Linked DNA regions of Homo sapiens: region 1 is linked to region 2. Evidence: fine-mapped expression QTL. A gene starts in region 2. The other region holds a variant in brackets. All regions are shown on one strand. Distances are from middle to middle.

Region 1 (10,706 bases), 96 kb before region 2:
CAGCGAGATAGCCAGGCCCCTCTATACTCTAATCAAGGAGACCCAGAGAGCAAATACTCATCTAGTAGAATGGGAACCAGTGGCAGAAACAGCCTTCAAAACCTTAAAGCAGGCCCTAGTACAAGCTCCAGCTTTAAGTCTTCCCACAGGAAAAAACTCTTTATATGTCACAGAGAGAGGAGGAATAGCTCTTGGGGTCCTTACTCAGACTCGTGGGACAACCCCACAACCAGTGGCATACCTAAGTAAGGAAACTGATGTAGTAGTAAAAGGCTAACCTCACTGTTTAAGGGTAGTTGCAGCGGTGGCTGTCTTAGTGTCAGAGGCTATCAAAATAATACAAGGAAAGGATCACACTGTCTGGACTACTCATGATGTAAATGGCATACTAGGTGCCAAAGGAAGTTTATGCCTATCAGACAACTGCCTACTTAGATACCAGGCACTACTCCTTGAGGGACCAGTGCTTCAAATACATACATGCATGGCCCTCAACCCTGCCACTTTTCTCCCAGAGGATGGGGAACCAGTCGAGCATGACTGCCAACAAATTATAGTGCAGATTTATGCCACCTGAGATGATCTCTTAGAAGTCCCCTTAGCTAATCCTGACCTTAACCTATATACTGATGGAAGTTCATTTGTGGAGAATGGGATACGAAGGGCAGGTTATGCCATAGTTAGTGATGTAAACATACTTGAAAGTAAGCCTCTTCCCCCAGGGACCAGCATCCAGTTAGCAGAACTAGTGGCACTTACCTGAGCCTTAGAACTGGGAAATGGAAGAAGAATAAATGTGTATACAGATAGCAAGTATGCTTATCTAATCCTAGATGCCCATGCTGCAATATGGAAAGAAAGGGAGTTCCTAACCTCTGGAGGACCCCCATTAAATACCACAAGGAAATCACAGAGTTATTGCACACAGTGCAAAAACCCAAGGATTTGGCAGTCTTACACTGCCAAAGCCATCAAAAAGGGGAAGGAGAAGGGAGAACAGCAGCATAAGCAGCTAGCAGAGTCAGGGAAAGACCAGCAGAAAGGAAAGAGAGAAAGAGACAGAGAAAAAAGAGAGGAAGAAACAGAGAGACAAAGAGAAGGAGTCAAAGAGAGAGACAGAGAACGCGAGAGAAAGACATAGAAAGTCAAAGAAAGAGAGGAAAAGACAGACAAAGAGGGAGTGAGAAAGTGAAAGATGAATAAGTCAAAGAGAAAGAAAGGGAGATGGAAGTAGTAAAGAAAAAACAGTATACCGTATTCCTTTAAAAGCCAGGGTAAATTTAAAACCTATAATTGATAATTGAAGGTCTTCTCTGTGACCCTATAACACTCCAATACCACCTTGTTAGTGTAAACAAGGGGGTAGCCCGAAAGCACTGAGGCCACTGACAACCCGTAGCCTTCCTATCAAAAATCCTTAACCCAGCAGGTTTCCTAACAGGGGATCTAAATCTGAAGGTCCGACCAGACAGAGGAGGAACTCCCTTTAGGACAGGAGGATAGATGGTTCCTCCTGGGCGATTAAGGAAAAAAGACACAATGGGTATTCAGTAAATGTTAAGGAAACTCTTGTAGAAGCAGAGTTAGGAAAATTGCCTAATAATTGGTCTGCTCAAATGTGTGAGTTGTTTGCACTAAACCAAATCTTAAAGTACTTACAGAATCAGGAAGGAGACATCTATACCAATTCTAAGTTAATATGGACTGAATGAGGTTTTATTAATAGCAAAGAAAAATTAAAATTCCAAACTTACAAGGTTTTCTACTAAAGTAGAGTTTGCTAAAAGTTAACAGTGTAACATGCATTATCTTACTACCACACACTCTCAAAGGCTTTCTCAGACAGTTTGCAAGAAATAATGAAATCTATCCTTACTCTACAATCCCAAATAGATTCTTTGGCAGCAGTGACTCTCCAAAACCATTGAGGCCTAGACCTCCTCACTGCTGAGAAAGGAGGACTCTGAACCTTCTTAGGGGAAGAGTGTTCTTTTTACATTAACCAGTCAGGGATAGTATGAGATGCTGCCCAGCAATTACAGGAAAAGGCTTCTGAAATCAGAAAACACCTTTCACAATTCTTATACCAACCTCTGGAGTTGGGCAACATGGCTTCTCCCCTTTCTAGGTCCCGTGGTAGCCATCTTGCTATTACTTGCCTTCAGGCCCTGTGTTTTTAACCTCCTTGTCAAATTTGTTTCCCCTAGAATTAAGGCCATCAAGCTACAGATGGTCTTACAAATGGAACCCCAAATGAGTTCAACTAACAACTTCTACTGAGGACCCCTGGACCAACCCACTGGCCCTTCCACTGGCTTAAAGAGTTCCCCTCTGGAGGACACTACAACTGCAGGGCCCCTTCTTCACCCCTATCCAGCAGGAAGTAGCTAGAGCGGTCATCAGCCAAATTCCCAACAGCAGTTGGGGTGTCCTGTTTAGGGGGGGATTAAGAGGTGAAGCTGGCTGGGCTTCTGGGTCAAGTGGGGACTTGGAGAACTTTTCTGTCTAGCTAAAGGATTGTAAACACACCAATCAGCACTCTGTGTCTAGCTAGTTGGGTGGGGACTTGGAGAACTTTTGTGTCTAGCTAAAGGTTTGTAAATGCACCAATCAGCACTCTGTGTCTAGCTAAAGGTTTGTAAATGCACCAATCAGCACTCTGTCAAAACAGACCAATCAGCTCTCTGTAAAATGGACCAATCAGCAGGGTGTAGGGATGTAGGTGGGGCCAAATAAAGGAGCAGGCCACCCTAGCCAGCAGCGGCAACCCACTCGGGTCCCCTTCCACGCTGTGTAAGTTTTGTTCTTTCACTCTTTGCAATAAATCTTGCTGCTGCTCACTCTTTGGGTCCACACTAACTTTATGAGCTGTAACACTCACTGTGAAGGTCTGCAGCTTCACTCCTGAAGCCAGCAAGACCATGAACCCACCAGGAGGAACAAACAACTCCAGACGGGCCACCTTTAAGGGCTGTAACACTCACCGTGAAGATCTGCAGATTCAGTCCTGAAGTCAGTGAGACCACAAACCCACCAGAATGAAAAAACTCCGGACACACCATCTTTAAGAACTGTAACACTCACTGTGAGGATCCACGGCTTCATTCTTGAAGTCAGCGAGACCAAGAACCCACCAATTCTAGACACAACATGACTGCATAAGATACAGTACCAAATGGGTGTCACGAAACCATGAAAACCATAGGAAAGATAGAAAAGAATGCTATAAGCTACTCTGGGAAAGGCACTGTGTCCTGCATCCCTTCTCTCTTATTTCTGTTAAGCAGGGCGAGGCCTCCTTAAGAGCATGGTCTCTGGAGTCAGATTGCATAGACTTAATTCCCAGCTTGTCTTAAATCCCACTTAAATTGCATAGACTTAAATTCCATTTGCTAGTTTTGTGGTCTTGGGCTAGTAACTTTTCTGCACCTTAATTTTCTGATCTGTAAAGTAGGTATAAAAAGACAGTAATTAGCGCTGGGCACTGCGGCTCATGCCTGTAATCCTAGCACTTTGGGAGGCCGAGGCAGGTGGATCACGAGGTCAGGAGTTCAAGACAAGCCTGGCCAGGATGGTGAAACCTTGTCTCTACTAAAAATACAAAAATTAGCTGGGCGTGGTGGCACATGCCTGTAATCCCAGCTACTCAGGAGGCTGAGGCAGAGAATTGCTTGAACCCGGGAGGCGGAGGTTTCAGTGAGCCAAGATGGCGCCACTGCACTCCAGCCTGGGTGATAGAGCGAGAGTCCATCAGCAAAACAAAACAAAACAGTAATTACTTTTTCTTCTTGTGAGAATTGAATGAGTGAATACAATAGTGCCTGGTACATAATCAGTATGCAATAAGTATTCACTATGACCTTGATTCAATAAACAATTTTTGAATACCTATGATGTATCAAACACTGTGTTTGAGATACAACAATAACGAATAAAACATAATCTTTGTCCTTAAGGAGGTTACAACTTTCAATGAAAGATACAAACTAGTGAACAGGCCATTGAAGCATGTGGTAAATGAGCACAAGAAGGATGTATTAGTTAAGACTTTGGCTTAGAGAAACAAAAAACAACTGAGCTCTCTTAAACAAAAGAGAGGAGTTAAAAAAATAAAAATGTAGCAGTATGTCAAATAGGACTATTATAGAACCAGGAACTGGAGAGCCACTGGGAGCCCCAGAAGTAGTCTTTCTCTGCTGGTGGGCTGCATTTTTCTCTGCAGCCTGGCCTCATGCTTCTTTGTCCCCACAGAGGGATATGACCATCCCACAGCTCATTCCTGGGTTTACATGTTGAAGCCTGACCAGGAGGCTGGATGGCCTGCCCCTATGCCAAATTCTTGGGGAGGGGAATCTAATTTGTCCCCCTTCAATGAAGGGTTTAACCCTTGTCTAATTGGCAAGGTCATAGTAAAAACATGGCTCTGGGGCCAGTGACTGTAAATTGGGGGAGTGGGCAAGTGAGGCTCAGTTCTTAAAGAAGGAGGTGTGGCTCATGGGCTAATTAGATACTTCCAAAGGTGTCAACTCCAGGAGGGACTCTAACCCAGCCTTGAGTCAGAGGACGCTTCCTACAGGAATTCATGCCTAGGCTAAGACTTTGAAGACTAATGAGAATTAACAGATGAAGGGATGAGAAGAGCATATTCCTGTAATTGTGAGAAGCATGAGTAGAGAGAAGGGGGCATCTCTGGACATCTCCAGGGAGGCCAGGGACAAGAGATGAGCCTGGAAAAATGAGCAGAAGGTAGATCACAAAGGGTCTTTTAAGCTTTACCATGTTAGGACTTTGCTGTGAGTTCTGAGGGAATGTATTAAAGATTTTAAAAGATAACTCGCTTTTCTTTACAACATTGACACCATCAAATGTTTTGTTGGACAAATTATTCTGGGAACCATATGAGAATATGTTGGGGTTGGGGAAAATGGAGGCATCGAGGTAATTTAGGTGAGAGGGGGTGTTGGTGGTCTGAACTAAGGTAGTAATAATAATAAGAAGAAAAAAGTTATGTTGATCTTAGGACACCCACATTACACAGTGCCTGATTTATATTAGGATTTTTGTTGAGTGATAGCAACTTAGAAATCAGATAAACTGGAGTGGCTCCCTCTAGTTCAGATATTTCTTGTTGCTTTGGTGATCAATGGCACTAGAACAGAGGAAGGGCTGGTAAATTCTGGCTGCAGGTCAGCACCGCTGAAAGATGTATTAAAGGCTCTTTCTCCCACTGCCATTTGTAACTCTTTGCATCCCTCGATGTGCCAGGAAACTTCAGCTCTGTAACTCAGGAAGGAGAGAAGAGTTATGGTTGAGGGCCAGGTTGAGAGGAGCAGGAGAAAGAAAGAGAGGAGGTGGGGGAGAAAAAAAAGGAGCAGAAGGAGAAGAAGCGGGAGGAGGAGTGCTGAATGGTATAGATGGTATAGATCTCCTTCCCATCTTGGTCTCTTTGGTTAGAAGAAACTAAAGGAATTATTTTCTAGTGATTCTCTGTGAAACTTGGGAGGGGGTGAGGCTGATGACAGCTACTCACAGAAAATGGTGTGGGAGCCAGGCAGAAGAACAGGGTAGCTGCTGTGGGCACCTGCAGCTGACAGTGTTGCATGGGCCTACATGGAGTTCCCATTTCAGAAATACCTGGGGAGAGAGGAAGGGGACTTAAGGGGAAATCCTGAGTTCTGGTTGCAGTGTATGTGTTTGCATATGTGCATGTAGCAATGCAAAGAAGGTGGCGTGGGAGATCATGCCCTTGTGATTTGGGTAGAACTCTGAGGAACCCTCATTTTCTAGTTATAGGCTGGAGGCTTGGTTTTTGACCCAGATAATCTGGTGTTCAGGAAACAAATAGAGAACATCCTGAGCAAGAATTTGAGTTGAAGTAGTTTTAATTTTGTGCCCATGTCACT[T/A]GAGGGGAGGTATTTTTGCTCACTCTCTGAGTGCACAGGACATAGTACCATGCCGGTGTGGCCTCAGTGTGGATCTTCAGAGGCCTCAGAGCAGCACAGCTGAGCTGGACCATTCATAAAGTTCCCCCAGGCTCACAATGGGGCTTTTTAGCAACCCAGGAACATGGAAGTTTCTCTTTTATAAATCTGATGGTGTGGTCCATAGTCTTCCTTCTTTTTTGGTATCTAGAAGTCCTCCTTTTTTTTTTTTTTTTTTGAGATGGAATCTTGCTCTGTTGCCCAGGCTGGAGTGCAGTGGCACAATCTCGAGTCACTGAGTTCAAGCAATTCTCCTGCCTCATAGTCTTCCTTCCTTTTTTTTTTTTGGGTATCTAGAAGTCCTCCTTTTTTTTTTTTAGATGAAATCTCGCTCTGTTGCCCAGGCTGGAGTGCAGTGGCACGATCTCCGCCTCCTGGGTTCAAGCAATTCTCCTGCCTCAGCCTCTCGAGTAGCTGAGATTACAGGCATCCGCCACCATGCCTAGCTAATTTTTGTTTTTTGTTTTTTTGGGACAGAGTCTTGCTCTGTCGCCAGGCCGGAGTGCAGTGGCGCGATCTTGGCTCATTGCAACCTCCGCCTCCCAGGTTCAAGCAATTCTCCTGCCTCAGCATCCCGAGTAGCTGGGATTACAGGCGCCCACCACCACGCCCAGCTAATTTTTGTATTTTTAGTAGAGACGGGTTTTCACCATGTTGGCCAAGATGGTCTCAATCTCTTGACCTCGTGATCTGCCCGCCTCGGCCTCCCAAAGTGCTGGGATTATAGGTGTGAGCCATGGTACCAGGCCAAGAAATCCTCTTGTAAGGTGAAAAAAAATATATATATATTTTATTATATATATTATATATTTATTATACATATCATATATTATATATATTTTATTATATATTATATATATTATATATTATATATTTTTTATTATATATTATATATTTTTTAGTATATATATTATATATTATATTATATATTATATATTTTATTATATATATTATATATCATATATTTTATTATATATATTATATATCATATATATTTTATTATATATATTATATATTATATATTTTATTATATATATTATATATTATATATATTTTATTATATATATTATATATTATATATATTATTATATATTATATATTATATATTTTATTATATATAATATATTATATATTTTATTATATATAATATATTATATATTTTATTATATATAATATATTATATATTTTATTATATATAATATATTATATATTTTATTATATATAATATATTATATATTTTATTATATATAATATATTATATATTTTATTATATATTATATATTATATATTTTATTATATATTATATATTATATATTTATTATATATTATATATTATGTATATTTTATTATACATTATATATTATGTATATTTTATTATATATATTATATATTATATATTTTATATATAATATATTATATATATTATATATTATATATATTATATTTTATATATATTATATATATATTTTATATATATATAATATATATATATTTTTGAGATGAAGTCTCGCTCTTGTCCCCCAGGCTAGAGTGCGATGGTGTGATCTAGGCTCACTGCAACCTCCGCCTCCTGGGTTCAAGCAATTCTCCTGCCTCTGCCCTCTGAGTAGCTGGGATTACAGGAGCCTGCCACCACGCCTGGCTAGTTTTTTGTATTTTTAGTAGAGATGGGGTTTTACCATGTTGGCCAGGCTGGTCTCGAATTCCTGACCTCAGGTGGTCCACCTGCCTCGGCCTCCCAAGGTGCTGGGATTAGAGGTGTGAGTCACCGTGCCAGGCCATTTTTTTTTTTTAAACCATGTTAAATCAATACTTTTGAAAATAATTTAGGATTTAGGCCAATACTTTGTAAAGGCTTCTATTTAATTATAAAAAGTTCTAAATGTACCTTAAAGAAGACACAATGAAATATTTGACCAATAATTTCCATTCATGTTGCAAAAAGATCATTTACCATCTTATATAGTTAATACATTTACTTCTGATGGCAAATGTACTACTCAAGACCCCTCAAGTGTCTGGAAATAGAGATTTCTTTTAGAAAAGCAGCTGCCTTGTGCTCTGAGTACTTTGCAGTTGACTAATTGTGAGGAAAGGTCCTTTGATGAAGAATCAAATCTGGATATTTTATCATAGAAAAAAGAGTTAAAAAAGAGTTCCTAGGCTGGGCGTGGTGACTCATGCCTGTAATCCCAGCACTTTGGGAGGCTGAGGCAGATGGATCACCTGAGGTCGGGAGTTTGAGACCAGCCTGACCAACTTGGAGAAACCCTGTCTATATTAAAAATACAAAAATTAGCCGGGCGTGGTAGTGCATGCCTGTAATCCCAGCTACTCGGGAGGTTGAGGCAGGAGAATCGCTTGCAACTGGGAGGTGAAGGTTGCAGTGAGCCGAGATTATGCCATTGCACTCCAGCCTGGGCAACAAGAGCGAAATTCCATCAAAAAAAAAAAAGAGTTATTTTGTTTCATGAGGAAGTTGATGCATTGAACTTGGGTTCTGTGACCTTGAGTATAACATTATTTCCCACTAAATGCAAATGTTTTATTTTGTTTGTTTTTTTAAAAAGGTCTTGAGTATCCTGTCTATATCCCTTGGATGCTACCATTTCAGAAAATGCCAAGATTTCCCGTGGCTTATGTCTGTCTCTTCATGCACAAGAACTTTCTCCAGCACTGAGAAAAGTTGCCATGTAGGTGGCAGGAAGTGCTGGGGAATTGATACTACCCAGGAGCAGTCTTCAATTAATACTTATAGGAATTGGTGTATAAATATCCCAGCTCCCCCAGTTTTGAGTGGGATAATTCTGACACACATATTTTCTACTCTGTCTTGCAGTTTCCCTGTGGATTGAGCTGCATCGCTGCCCAGGATGGTAGCAGGCTTAATGACCACCCTTTGGTGGCTGCCTGCTATTCCCTCTGTCATTTCCTTACTTCCCTTCTAGTAGTCCCTGCACCTCTAAAATAAGCTATTCTACTCAAATCTATGTCCTAGGGTTTACTTCTTGGGAAACCAAACTAAGACAGACTCATTTGTTTAAAATGGGATCATTCTGCTATTTCATATTCTGTTACATGCTGATAGAGTATCAAGGCATAATTTCCAAACTGCTATAAAGATAATTCTCATACAAATAGATGCATGTGTCAAGGCTTTATTCAATTCATTTATGAGGGAACTGGCAGGATAAGAAAGCTGATTCAATGTGTATAGTCAGTGAAAAAAGGAATGCTGAAATAAGACTGCTATATTAGATGTAAAACTGCTTAATGTCCTACAGGGGAATTACATCATAACCTTTGAGTTATGTTATTACTTAGAGGAACAAATATCATTATAACTTACAGAGATGAACTCTACAGAGATGAACTCTAATTTTATAGACTAGAATGGGTCTGGGTCACTGATTAATTAGTACTAGTAAGTCAAACAATGTTAGACCCTACTCACATTAGATGGGGCTTAGCATGATCAAAGGTCACCCAGTTATCTTTTTTACTTATTTCCAAGTTTGGAATCATTTTTGGAGCAACAGGAGACTTTTTTTTTGGAGACTGAGTCTCACTCTTTTGCCCAGGCTGGAGTGCAGTGGCACGATCCCCGCTCACCGTAATCTCTGCCTTCCCGGTTCAAGTGATTCTCCTGCCTCAGTCTCTGAGGCTGGGATTACAGGCGCGCACCACCACGCCTAGCTAATTTTGTATATTTAGTAGAGATGGGGTTTCACCATGTTAGCCAGGCCGATCTTAAATTCGCGACCTCTGGTGATCCGCCCGCCTCGGCCTCCCAAAATGCTGGGTTTACAGGCGTGAGCCACCGTGCCCGGCCAACAGGATACTTTTATGGTGGCTTATAAGTAATCTGTGGGCTAATGAATGTGACGTTCTTAGTGGCAGATCAGTAAGTTGTGAAATGTGTGTGTGTTTGTATATGTTTTGAAACATTTCACTTGTTTGGAACAACAAAATACGTTTTAAAGACACTTTAAAAATTATAAATGCAGCACATTTTGATATTGAATAAAACATGTAACATAAATTATCAAAACAAAGTTTCTCTATCATGTAGGAGTTTTGTTTTCTGTTTTAGTTTTTATTAAGTGTATCTAGTATTTTGATGAAATTATTTGGAAATTCTGGATCTGGAAACTGGTTACAGATGTCCAGATTTTCCTTACTGGGAAAGAATCTTTAGGAAAACATCTGTTACACTAGAATCTTTTTTTTGGCGGGGTGGGGGTGGGGGAGATGGGACAGAGCCTTGATCTTTTGCCCAGGCTGGAGTTAAGTGGTGTGATCTTGGCTCACTGCAACCTCCGCCCCCCGGTTACGAGTGATTCTCCTGTCTCAGCCTCCCGAGAGCTGGGATTACAGGCGCCCACCACCATATCCAGTTAATTATTGTATTTTTAATAGAGATGGGGTTTCACCATGTTGGCCAGGCTGGTCTCGAACTCCTGATCTCAGGTGATCCACCTGCCTCGGCTTTCCAAAGTGCTAGGATTACAGGCGTGAGCCACCGTGCCCGGCCGATTCATTTGTTTTTTTTTGTTTGTTTGTTTGTTTGTTTTTTTGAGGCAGAGTTTCATTCTTGTTGCCCAGGCTGGAGTGCAGTGGCGTGATCTCCGCCGGCTCACTGCAAACTCCGCTTCCCGGGTTCAAATGATTGTCCTGCCTCAGCCTCCGGAGTAGCTGCGTTTACAAGCGCCTATCACCACGCCG
Region 2 (10,317 bases):
AAATTATTATTTATAAACGTGAATGTTTCTCTCTCTACTGTTCTTACTGCTTATAAAGAGATATTGGCATAGCTCTTAAGCTATTCTTAGCATGAAACTTGGTACTTTGGCATTATACTGATGTCAATGCAATTTAATGTAGGAACTCAGTGATGAAATAAATACTGAGATGAGAAAGCAGTGTTTTGTTGAAAACTACCACACAGCATTCCAAATTTCACATGTTCTATTTTAGAAGCATCCTTTTTTTCTTACAAATTTTATCTTTAAAAAAGTATTATGGAAAATGTCAAACATACAAAAGTATAACAGTATAATGAAACCTCATGAACCCATAACCAACCTTCCACAACTATCAACATTCCGTTGCTGTTGTTTCAGCGACTTCTGTTTTTTTCTTTTGAAATATTCAAACGCTAATCTCAACTGGTGTGGTGGCTCACACCTGTAATCCCAGCACTTTGGGAGGCCGAAGCAGGTGGATCCTGAGGTCAGGAGTTCAAGACCAGCCTGACCAACATGGTGAAACCCCATCTCTACTAAAAATGCAAAATTAGCTGGGCGTGGTGGAGCCTGCCTGTAATTCCAGTTACTTGAAAGACGGAGGCAGGAGATTGGCTTGAATCGGGGAGGCGAAGGTTGCAATGAGCTGAGATCGCGCCATTGCACTCCAGCCTGGGCAACAAGAGCCAAACTCCATCTCAAAAAAAAAAAAAAAAAAAAATACCCTGTAAAAACCAAATCTCAGATATGATATAAGTTTATCCATAAACATTTCAGTATGTATCTCTAACAATTACAGACACATTAAAGAAGTCTGTTTCTCCTAAAATTTTTCCCTTAATAAACGGCTCAAGCCAAAACCTTGGAGTCATCCTTAACTCATCTTTCTCTCATACCTCACAGCCAATCCAACAGCCAATACTGGATAATTTGGAACCTTCACTGCTACCACTGTAATCTAAGTTACAATCGCCTTTTACGTGTATTATGGCCACAGCTCCTTCATTGGTCTCCTTAATGCCCCTGAAACTTCAGTCTTTGTACTTCTTCCTGCTGCCTGAAATACTTTTATTCCAAAAAAAACTAGGTCTGTCACTTCCTTGAGGTCTCTTGAATTTCATCCTATTAGAAAGACTTGCCCTGACCATCCTATCTATACACGATACTAATGTTAGAAAATACTAATAAAGATATTAACAACCACCATCTCTGCGTTATTCTATTCTTCTGGCCATGATTTTTATCACCACCTGATGTATTTACAAGCTTATCTTCCGCTACAATGTAAGCTTCAGGAGGGCAGACACTTTGCTGATTTTATTCACTGCTGTATCACCAGTGTCCACAGTAGCCACAAGCAGACATCAGACATGCAGTAGACACTTAAATATTTAAAACTGAAAAGAAAATTATTTGATGGCTAACAGATTAGCATAAAATTTAAAACTTTTTCCTAAAGAATTTGAAACAAGGAATTAAAATTCTTTGGGAAGTACACATTTTGAGAGCTTTGCTAGATTTAATTTTTTAAATTGAGTCTATCCACAATTTAAATCAGACTAAATTCTAGTAAATGTGTCCTCTTTAAGGGGTGTGAGTTATACGTCTGAAACATATTTAACTGTATTTAAAAGAGTAGCATTATACAGTGTCAAATCCTCATAAGCATCTAGAATTATAGGTAATGAGCACTAGGACAAACAAAAATACCAAGGGCTCTAGTCCTCTATTGCAGTCAATGTTAAAAGTGTACAAGTGTCTCACACATCAAAATTCATTTCACACCCTCAATCACTCATTCTTCTTGCACCTTGTCTTTGAACTATTAGAAGCTAGTGAATTTAAATCAAAACATTATTTTAACTATAAAGGCTCAACGTCTACAATATATCATATTTTAGGGAAGGAAGGGAAGAAAAGGGTTAAGGCAGCTAGCTTATTACTCACCATGCAGATTTTAGAACTTAGAAATCAAAAGCTAGAAGGAATTTACCATCTCTAAAGTGTTACTTGCTTGTTGATATGGAAATGCTCAGATTGAACCAGATGATTTTTAAGGTCTCTCTAGGCCACAGCATTCTATTATTCTAGCTATCTTAAATCTGGAATGCTTATCCCGGAAGAAAAAGCAGCTGGGAGTACTAGGTCAGACAGCACCTGGTTATTTACTAGTTGTGCAAGTTTCTTAACCTCAGTAAGGCTGCTTCCTCACATATATAAAAGGGGTTAATAACATCTATCTGGCAAAGTTATGGAAAAGACTGGAGATAATATGTCAAATGCATTACAAAGTGCTTGACAGGTTTTTCATAATATAGGCAGCTATTACCTTGCTCTAGCTCTACTACTCTTTTGCCAGGGATAGTGCAATGTAGGATCAACTGTGCCAACAAAATTGGGGCAAAGGCAAGGAAAGTAGTAAAGCCACAGAACAGATTTACATTTCAGCACCAATTTGGTATGCATATTAGAAAATTATTTTTGTTTTCTTTTTACAAAAGAGAATGTTGTTGCTACCGTGACCGTAAACACCAGATTGTTTATAATTCATGTTGTGAAATTTACATCTGTTCACAGATTTACTGAGTTGGCATAACATGGGTGATGACTGTGGGAAACGGCCCAAGTTCCTTAGTACTGACACTTCCTTGATTGTAGAATATCGAGAGGTAGTCAACTTTTCCCCTTAAAGTATATTTAAAACATACTACTGTGACTACAGCCATAACAATATCCCCGCATCTCTCCTTGATCTACAGCTGGTGCTTCCCATTTTGAAAAAGAGTGAAAACCCCCCAACCCTAGGTTTCTTGTGGTCTTGGCAAAGTCTCAACGCCAACTGGCGATCTCCATTTCCCCCGCGGGCTGCCAAGCCCAGGACAGTCCTTTCAGGGAGAAAGAGGGCCGGAGGGAACTGTGTTGGCAGCTCTCTGGGTTGAAGGACAGGAAAAGGAAACTCCCTTCTTGGACTCCGAGGGGAGGGTGAGAGACGAAAGGAAAGGGTGGGGGGTAGTGCAAGAATGGCCTGTGTCTCGGTTACCGCAAAGGACTCGCAAGCCTCCGCCAGCCCCGGGGTGGAGGCCACAGGAGCACTGACGTCGTGGTATCAGAAAGGCGGACAGTGCAGCCTTAGTGTTCCCCAGGGGTGGGAGGAAGCTCCCGGCCCCGTCCCCACCCCGCCTCGCTTCCCAGGGAGCGGCGGTTGGGCAGGAGCGGGGCAGAAATCCGCCGCCGGGCCCGGGGAGGGGACCAGGCCGCGCCCATCTCCCAGGCCTCTGGCTGCAGCAGGCCCGCTGGGTGGTCGGCGAGGCCCGGGGGCGCCGCGTCGAGCTGCGGTCCCCTCCCTCAACCTTCCCGGGCGCCGCCACCCCTTTTCCCCCCAGCACCAGGGTACCTGCACGGCGCGACTGAGGAAGGTGCCTGCGTCGGCCGCCAGCTTCTTCACGTTGAAGTCCATGATATTCATCCTAGGCGGCAGCCGGGCGGAGCCGGCCGACCTAGCGGCGGCGAGGCGGAGGTGCCGCGGCCGGGCTGGGGCGCAGGGCTAGAGCGGCGAGGGCAGACGTGGTAGGTGGAGGGAGGCGGCGCCAGCCCCGCAGCCGCAGCTGTCGTTTCCGTGAACGGGGAGGATGAAGGCGGGGCGAGGGAGGAGAACAAGCGCGCGGCGGCAGCGCCAAGGATGGGTCAGTCGGCTCGGAGAACGGCCGCTAACGTCGACGATGGGCCCCGCGGGCGAGCCGGAGATGGACGGGCGACCCCGCCGTGTGGACCCGGGTCCCAAGGGAAAAACAAGCGCGGGCCGCGGGGCGGAGCCTTTCTCGAGGTTATCGCGGGAACAGCGACCCCTTGAGGATTGCGGCGGCGCAGCCCCGGGGCGCGCCGGGAGCTCCGCCCGGCTCCTGTGGAGGAAGCGGCGAGGGCGAGCCGCGGGGTCTCGGCGCCTCTGTATGCTTGCACTTAACGAGAACCCAGAGCGAACACGACCCACATTTCTCTTTTTGTTTTAAGAGGAAATATAGGAGTTACAGCATAGAATTACAATATCTGGACATTAGAAATAACAGGTCCCGGTCACGGTATGGCACCGCGCGACACACTTGGTCCCTGAGGCCTGGATGCCGCTCAGCAAACGTTCGCGGAATAGGGTTGGGTTTACTGTCCCCCACCGAGCCGGTTGCTCATTCATTCAGCATAATTGAATACCTCCTGTGTGCCAGGCACTGAATCAAGTGTCGGAGACAATGTCCTGCCCTCAAGCTCCTGGCCGGTTACTTGACAACCTTCCGGGACCTCAACGCTATGTGCCTACTGTGTGAAAGCAAAGTGCCAGGTGGAGGACACAAAGATGGCGAGCGACACAGGATAGTCCTTAACAATTAAGCGTGACTAATTTTAATAACAAATGAGAATATGATGTGACATCCGTTCCAAATCCTGTCGTTCCAAGTAACTTCTTAAGCATCTTTCACGATACAGCCTCTGCTTGAAAGGAATTAAAACAGGTACAAGCATGGAAGGAGACGTTGCTATCATATTTCAAGAATAAGAAAATGCTGTTTTGTGTGGTTGTGCAGCAGGCAATGAAATGAGCTTACATTCAAGCTTCCGTGTTTTACTGAAACAACAGTCACAGATGCAGTAGATGTTAAAGGTTGAAAGACGAGTGCAGTAAAAGCATTATGAGGACAAGAAGAAAACGTAAATATTTGTGTTGTTTCATTCTTTGTTGTGGTGGCAGAAACAGCCCCCTCTTTCTAAGGTAACTCCAATATAATGATCTCTCCCAGCTTTGAAATACTCCATGTCTGTTTCATTTTCCAGAAATATGGAAAAATGAATATATAATAAAAAACCCTATTTCTCATTTATTGTCTATTTTAGATCTTTATGTGGAAAAGCACTTACTCTCTTCCCAGAGCACTGTTTTTAAAGTAGGTATATTTGCCATAACCTATGCTCGTCTCTACAAAAGGATCACACCACCGTGTCCACCATTAAAGGGGAAATTCTTTAATGGTGGACACAGTGGTGTCCCTGAATCCTCATCCTCAAGTGTTTCAATCTTCCCAGTCTTGGGAAAACAACAATGTTACTTCTTTCTTTTGCACCCTCTGTAGCTGTAATCCTGTTTCCCCATTCTCCATAAAAGACTTACCTTATTTTCATATATCCTTATTCTTAGCCTTTGACACTTTTTTTTTTGAGACAGAGTTTTGCTGTGTCACCCAGGCTGGAGTGCAATGGTGTGATCTCAGCTCACTGCAACCTCTGCCTCCTGGGTTCAAGGATTCTCCTGCCTCAGCCTTCCAAGTAGCTGGGATTACAAGCATGCATCACCACGCCCGGCTAATTTTTTATATCTTTAGTAGAGACAGAGTTTCACCATGTGGGCCAGGCTGGTCTCGAACTCCTGGCCTCAAGTGATCCGCCTGCCACAGCCTCCCAAAGTGCTGGGATGACAGGTGTGAGCCACCGCACCCAGCTGATTCGCTTTCTTTACAGAGAAAATATAAATCATCACTCTGTTTGGCAGAAGCCTCTTCAACCAAATTTCCTTATTTCCACCTCCTGTTCTCTCCACACTCTTTCCTGCATCATTGCCAAATGTTTCAAAGGAATAGGTGTCTCAGGTGTTCTGAGTAGAGCCACTGCTCCCTTAATCTTGGCTGCACATCAGCATCACCTGGAGAGTTTAAGCAACCACTGATGCCTGGATCCAGTCCCAGAGTGTGGACTGGGCATTGGGATGTTTTAGGAGTTCCTCTAGGTGTTCTTAATGTGTGACCAAGGTTGAGAACTAATTTGTCACCCTCTAGAACTTGCTCCATCAGTCTCTACCCTTTGCCTACAGACTGATTCTACTTCTCTTACCAGATATCAGTCCCTTAAGGGCAGTGTCCGTTTCCTATTTATTTTTATATATTTTATGGTTTACACAGGCAACATAGTGAATTCCCAAATGATTTAGTAAGTGAAAAAAGTAATCAAATCAAGATGTTTACAGTGCTAAGCTCTTTTGTGACACCATCACCCCCAGCCTAAATTTCCAACTATTTATCCATAGATTCAATATTTCCAGTGGCAAGTCTGTTATAGTTTGCTTTTCCTGAAAATTCTTCTTTTCTTGGGTTTCCTACATTGATAAATTGAATCATACACACCAAATCACCTAAGCCAGAAATCTGAGTCCCCTTTGATTATTTCCTCTTATTTCCCACCACCAATTGGTCTATCCTGGCAATTTCTTCTCTGAAACTGTTTCCTATTTTTCATTTTCATCCTCTTTTTAAAAACAAATTTTTTAACTTGAAACAATTTACAAACTAAGAAAACTGTTGCAAGAATAGTACAAAAACTTCTGTGTACCCTTTGCCTAGAAACCCCACTCAAACTTTGCCAATTATTCCAATGTCTTTACAGCAAAAACGTCCCAGCCAAGAAAGATCATGTGCTGCATCCAGTTAGCTTGTTGCTCAATTCTCCTTCAGTCTGGATCAATTATTCAGGCTTTTCTTGACACTATTCCTTCCCCAGAGTTAGCCACTATTTTTAAATTGGTATGATTAATATCTGTTATGTTTTTGTACTTTCACTGAATTTATATGTATCTATGAATGGTACTACTATGTTATATTTTTAAACTGCATAAATGATATCATATAGATAAATCCTTTTGCATTTAGGGGTCTAATACTTCTATTTGTGTATTTGATGACCTTTTTGTTTGTGGATTGATTCCTTTTGCTTTGTACATTGATTCCTTTTAGCTTTTTTTTTTATGGCTCATTTTTAGTGATACAGAAAAAAATGTTTCTTCTGTCAGAGACCCCTAAGGTTATCACTGGCTAGTGAGCAATTTTTACATGAATTTCTTTCTTGGCTTAGAAGTTCTAAGATCATTCAGATATTATAAATTTGAACCCAGATTTGTGGGAGTACAAACTATGATTCAAATTCTCAAGGGAGAGAGATCTTCCTTGTTTTTTTCTCTTTCAGAGCTTGTGCCTTGACAGAAAAGCTTCTTACTATGCCAGAAGAAAAGCTTCTATCTAGTCTACCCTTTCATTGAGGGTACAGAATTTCATGGGTTTTTAACTTATGTGTGTGTGTGAGGTCATGAAGTTGGGGGACAGGGTGTGCTCACAGTTAACTGATTTCTGTTTGCACCAAGGGCCCAAGGTCTTATCACAAGTTACCGTGTATTTTTAAAAATTATAAAGGCCAGGCGCGGTGGCTCATGCCTATAATCCCAGCACTTTGGGAGGCTGAGGTGGGTGGATAACTTGAGGTCAGGAGTTCAAGACCAGCCTGGCCAACATGGTGAAACCCTGTCTCTACTAAAAATACAAAAATTAGCCGGGTGTGGTGGTGGGTGCTTGTAATCCCAGGTACTCGGGAGGCTGAGGCAGGAGAATCACTTAAACCGAGGAGGTTGCAGTGAGCTGAGATCACGCCATTGCATTCCAGCTTGGGCAACAAGAGCGAAACTCCATCTTAAAAAAAAAATTAATGAAAATTGACAAATGATAATTGTATATACTGTATTGTATACAACCTGATTTGTAATATGTATACATCTTGGAATGGCTAAATTGAGTGACTTAACATATGTATTACGTCACATACTTATTTTTATGGTGAGAACACTTAAAGTCTGTTCTTAGTGATTTTGAAGAATACAACATGTTGTTAACTATAGTCACTATGTTGTACAATAGATCTCTTGAACTTATTCCTCCTATGTAACTGAAATTGTATATCCTTTGACCAGCGTCATCCAGCTCCCTCACTCTCTCCCAGCCCTTGCTAACCACCATTCCACTCTTTGCTTCTATTGAGTTCAACTTTTTTAGATTCCATATTTAAGTGAGATCATGCAATATTCATCTTTCTGGGCCTGGCTTATTTCACTTAACATAATGTCTTTAAGGTTCATCTATGTTGTCACAAATGACAGGATTTCCTTCTTTTTAGAGGCTGAATAGTTTTCCATTGTATACATATATCACATTTTTAAAATCCATTTATCACCTCATGGATTTAAACATTCAAGCACCATCCTCATTCAATCCTTTCTCCTCTCCAGACAGGGTCATATTCTGTATTCAAGACCCTGGTGTCCAGTTTCTTTTTTTATTTTTGCCACCTGAATATTTCCCTGTCTTTTTTTTTGTAAGCTCAAGTATGCATTATTATTAATTAATTAATTTATTTTGCTGCATTTTACCCAGCATTTCTAAGTATTTGTAGTAGAAGAGTTTTCATGTTATCTAGTCTGTATTGATTAAGGACTGCTTATGTTCAGCTCAAGTAACAGAAACCTAGCTGTAGTGACTTACCCAAATACTGATTTATTTTCTCACCCTCTAAGAAGTTCAGAGGTAGGCAGTCTTCTGTGTTTTTGTTTTTCTATTCTTATCATGTAGCTTTCATCCTAATGTCTCAAGATGGCTCCTGTAATTCTAGGCATTAAATATGTTTTTAAGGCAGAAAAAGGATGAAAAGTAAAGGCAAAAGTACATGCCAACTGAGTCTACTTCTTACTCCTTAAATCAAGAAAACAGCTTTTTCATAAACCCCACGTAGTAAACTTTGGTTTACATCTCATTAGCTAGAACTGGGTCGTTTAGTTCTCCGTAAATGCATTAGAGACTGATAAATGAAATGTGCCCTGTTGAAAAATAAGTATTTCAATTTTTTATATCTTTAAAAAAATCTATATCAAAAATACATATATATGTATCTATATATCTATATATATCTATATATAGATACATATAAATTCAGTTGAAAGTATACAATCATAATAGAAATTAGTATTTTATTTTTAAATCTTTCTTTATTTCTTAAACAGCACTTACTGTCATCCTGAACAAAAATGGGGTTTCTGTTAGCAAGGCAGAAAGAGAATAGTTATAGGGTAAGCAACTATCAATGTCTGCCATGCTGCTGTAAGGCAAGAATTGAAAGTCTCCCATGCTCACTGAAACTTCCTTTCAGTTTTTAGACTGATAAACAGGGCCACTTACATAATTCGCAGGGACCAATGCAAAACGAAAATATGGAGCCCTTTGTTCAAGAGCAAAAGGAAAGTGCTGTTTAAAGGTATTAAAATAAAACTTTTTCCTTTATTTTGTGATCTCTTTTGACTTGTCATTTTTTTATTTGCTGTTTAATGTCATTCTAAGCAAAGAAAAGATTATAATTTAAATTATTAGAATGATTTTTACCATACATCTTCATGTTGTACAATGACAGTGTTATGTTATGTTATGTTATGTTATGTTATGTTATGTTATGTTATGTTATGTTATGTTATGTTATTTTTTGAGATGGAGTCTCACTGTGTTGCCCAGGCTGGAGTGCAGTGGCACAGTCTTGGCTCACTGCAACCTCTGCCTCCCGAGTTCAAGTGATTCTCCTGCCTCAGCCTCCCAAGTAGCTGGGATTACAGGTGCCTGCTACCATGCCCAGCTAATTTTTGTATTTTTAGTGGAGACGGGTTTTTGCCATGTTGGCCAGGGTGGTCTCAAACTCTGTAATCTGCCTGCCTCGGCCTCCCAAAGTGCTGTGATTACAGGCATGAGCCACCGCGCCCGGCCCTACAATGCCAGTTTTAAAACAAATATAAGAGCATTTCCCAGCCTCACTAATTATCAGGGAAATGCAAATCAAAACCGCAATGCAATACCACCTTACTCCTGCAAGAATGGCCTTTAATTAAAAAAAAAAAAAAGATGTTGGCATGGATGTGGTGAAAAGAGAACACTTTCACACTGCTGGTGGGAATGCAAACTAGTACAACCACTGTGGAAAACAGTGTGGAGATTCCTTAAAGAACTAAAAGTAGGTCTACCATTTGATCCAGCAATCCCCCTATTGGGTATCCACCCAGAGGAAAAGAAGTCATTATACGAAAAAGATACTTGCACATGCATGTTTATAGCAGAACAATTCACAATTTCAAAAATATGTAACCAGCTCAAATGCCAATCAATCAACAAGTGGATAAAGAGAATGTTGTATATATTTTCTGGAATACTACTCAGCCATAAAAAGGAATGAAATAATGGCATTCATAGCAACCTGGATGGAATTAGAGACCATTATTCTGAGTGAAGTAACTCAGGAATGGAAAACCAAGCATCGTATGTTCTCACTCATAAGTGGGAGCTAATCTATGAGGACATAAAGGCTTAAAAATGTTTCAATGGACTTTGGGGACTTGGAGGAAAGGGTTGGTGTGGGGGTGGGGCATAAAAGACTACACATTGGGTACAGTGTACATTGCTCGGGTAACGGGTGCACCAAAAT

The links.
Region 1: its variant is fine-mapped to the expression of SH3GLB1 in whole blood (INTERVAL, PIP 0.98).

What each region holds. Positions count from the first base shown.
Region 1 is chr1:86,794,060-86,804,765 of GRCh38, reverse strand. No RefSeq gene overlaps it. Among named protein-coding and RNA genes, the nearest start is that of SH3GLB1, 95 kb to the right of the region's middle. The variant T/A (reference allele first, on the strand shown) is at 5,904.
Region 2 is chr1:86,698,052-86,708,368 of GRCh38, reverse strand. It overlaps SH3GLB1 (SH3 domain containing GRB2 like, endophilin B1), which reads right to left and starts at 3,793. Exons shown (of 9, transcript NM_016009.5): 1 at 3,398-3,793. The coding sequence starts at 3,469. It overlaps CLCA4-AS1 (CLCA4 antisense RNA 1), which reads left to right and starts at 3,876. Exons shown (of 5, transcript NR_135837.1): 1 at 3,876-4,762. RefSeq lists a silencer at 3,140-3,629 and enhancers at 3,454-3,955, 4,520-4,589.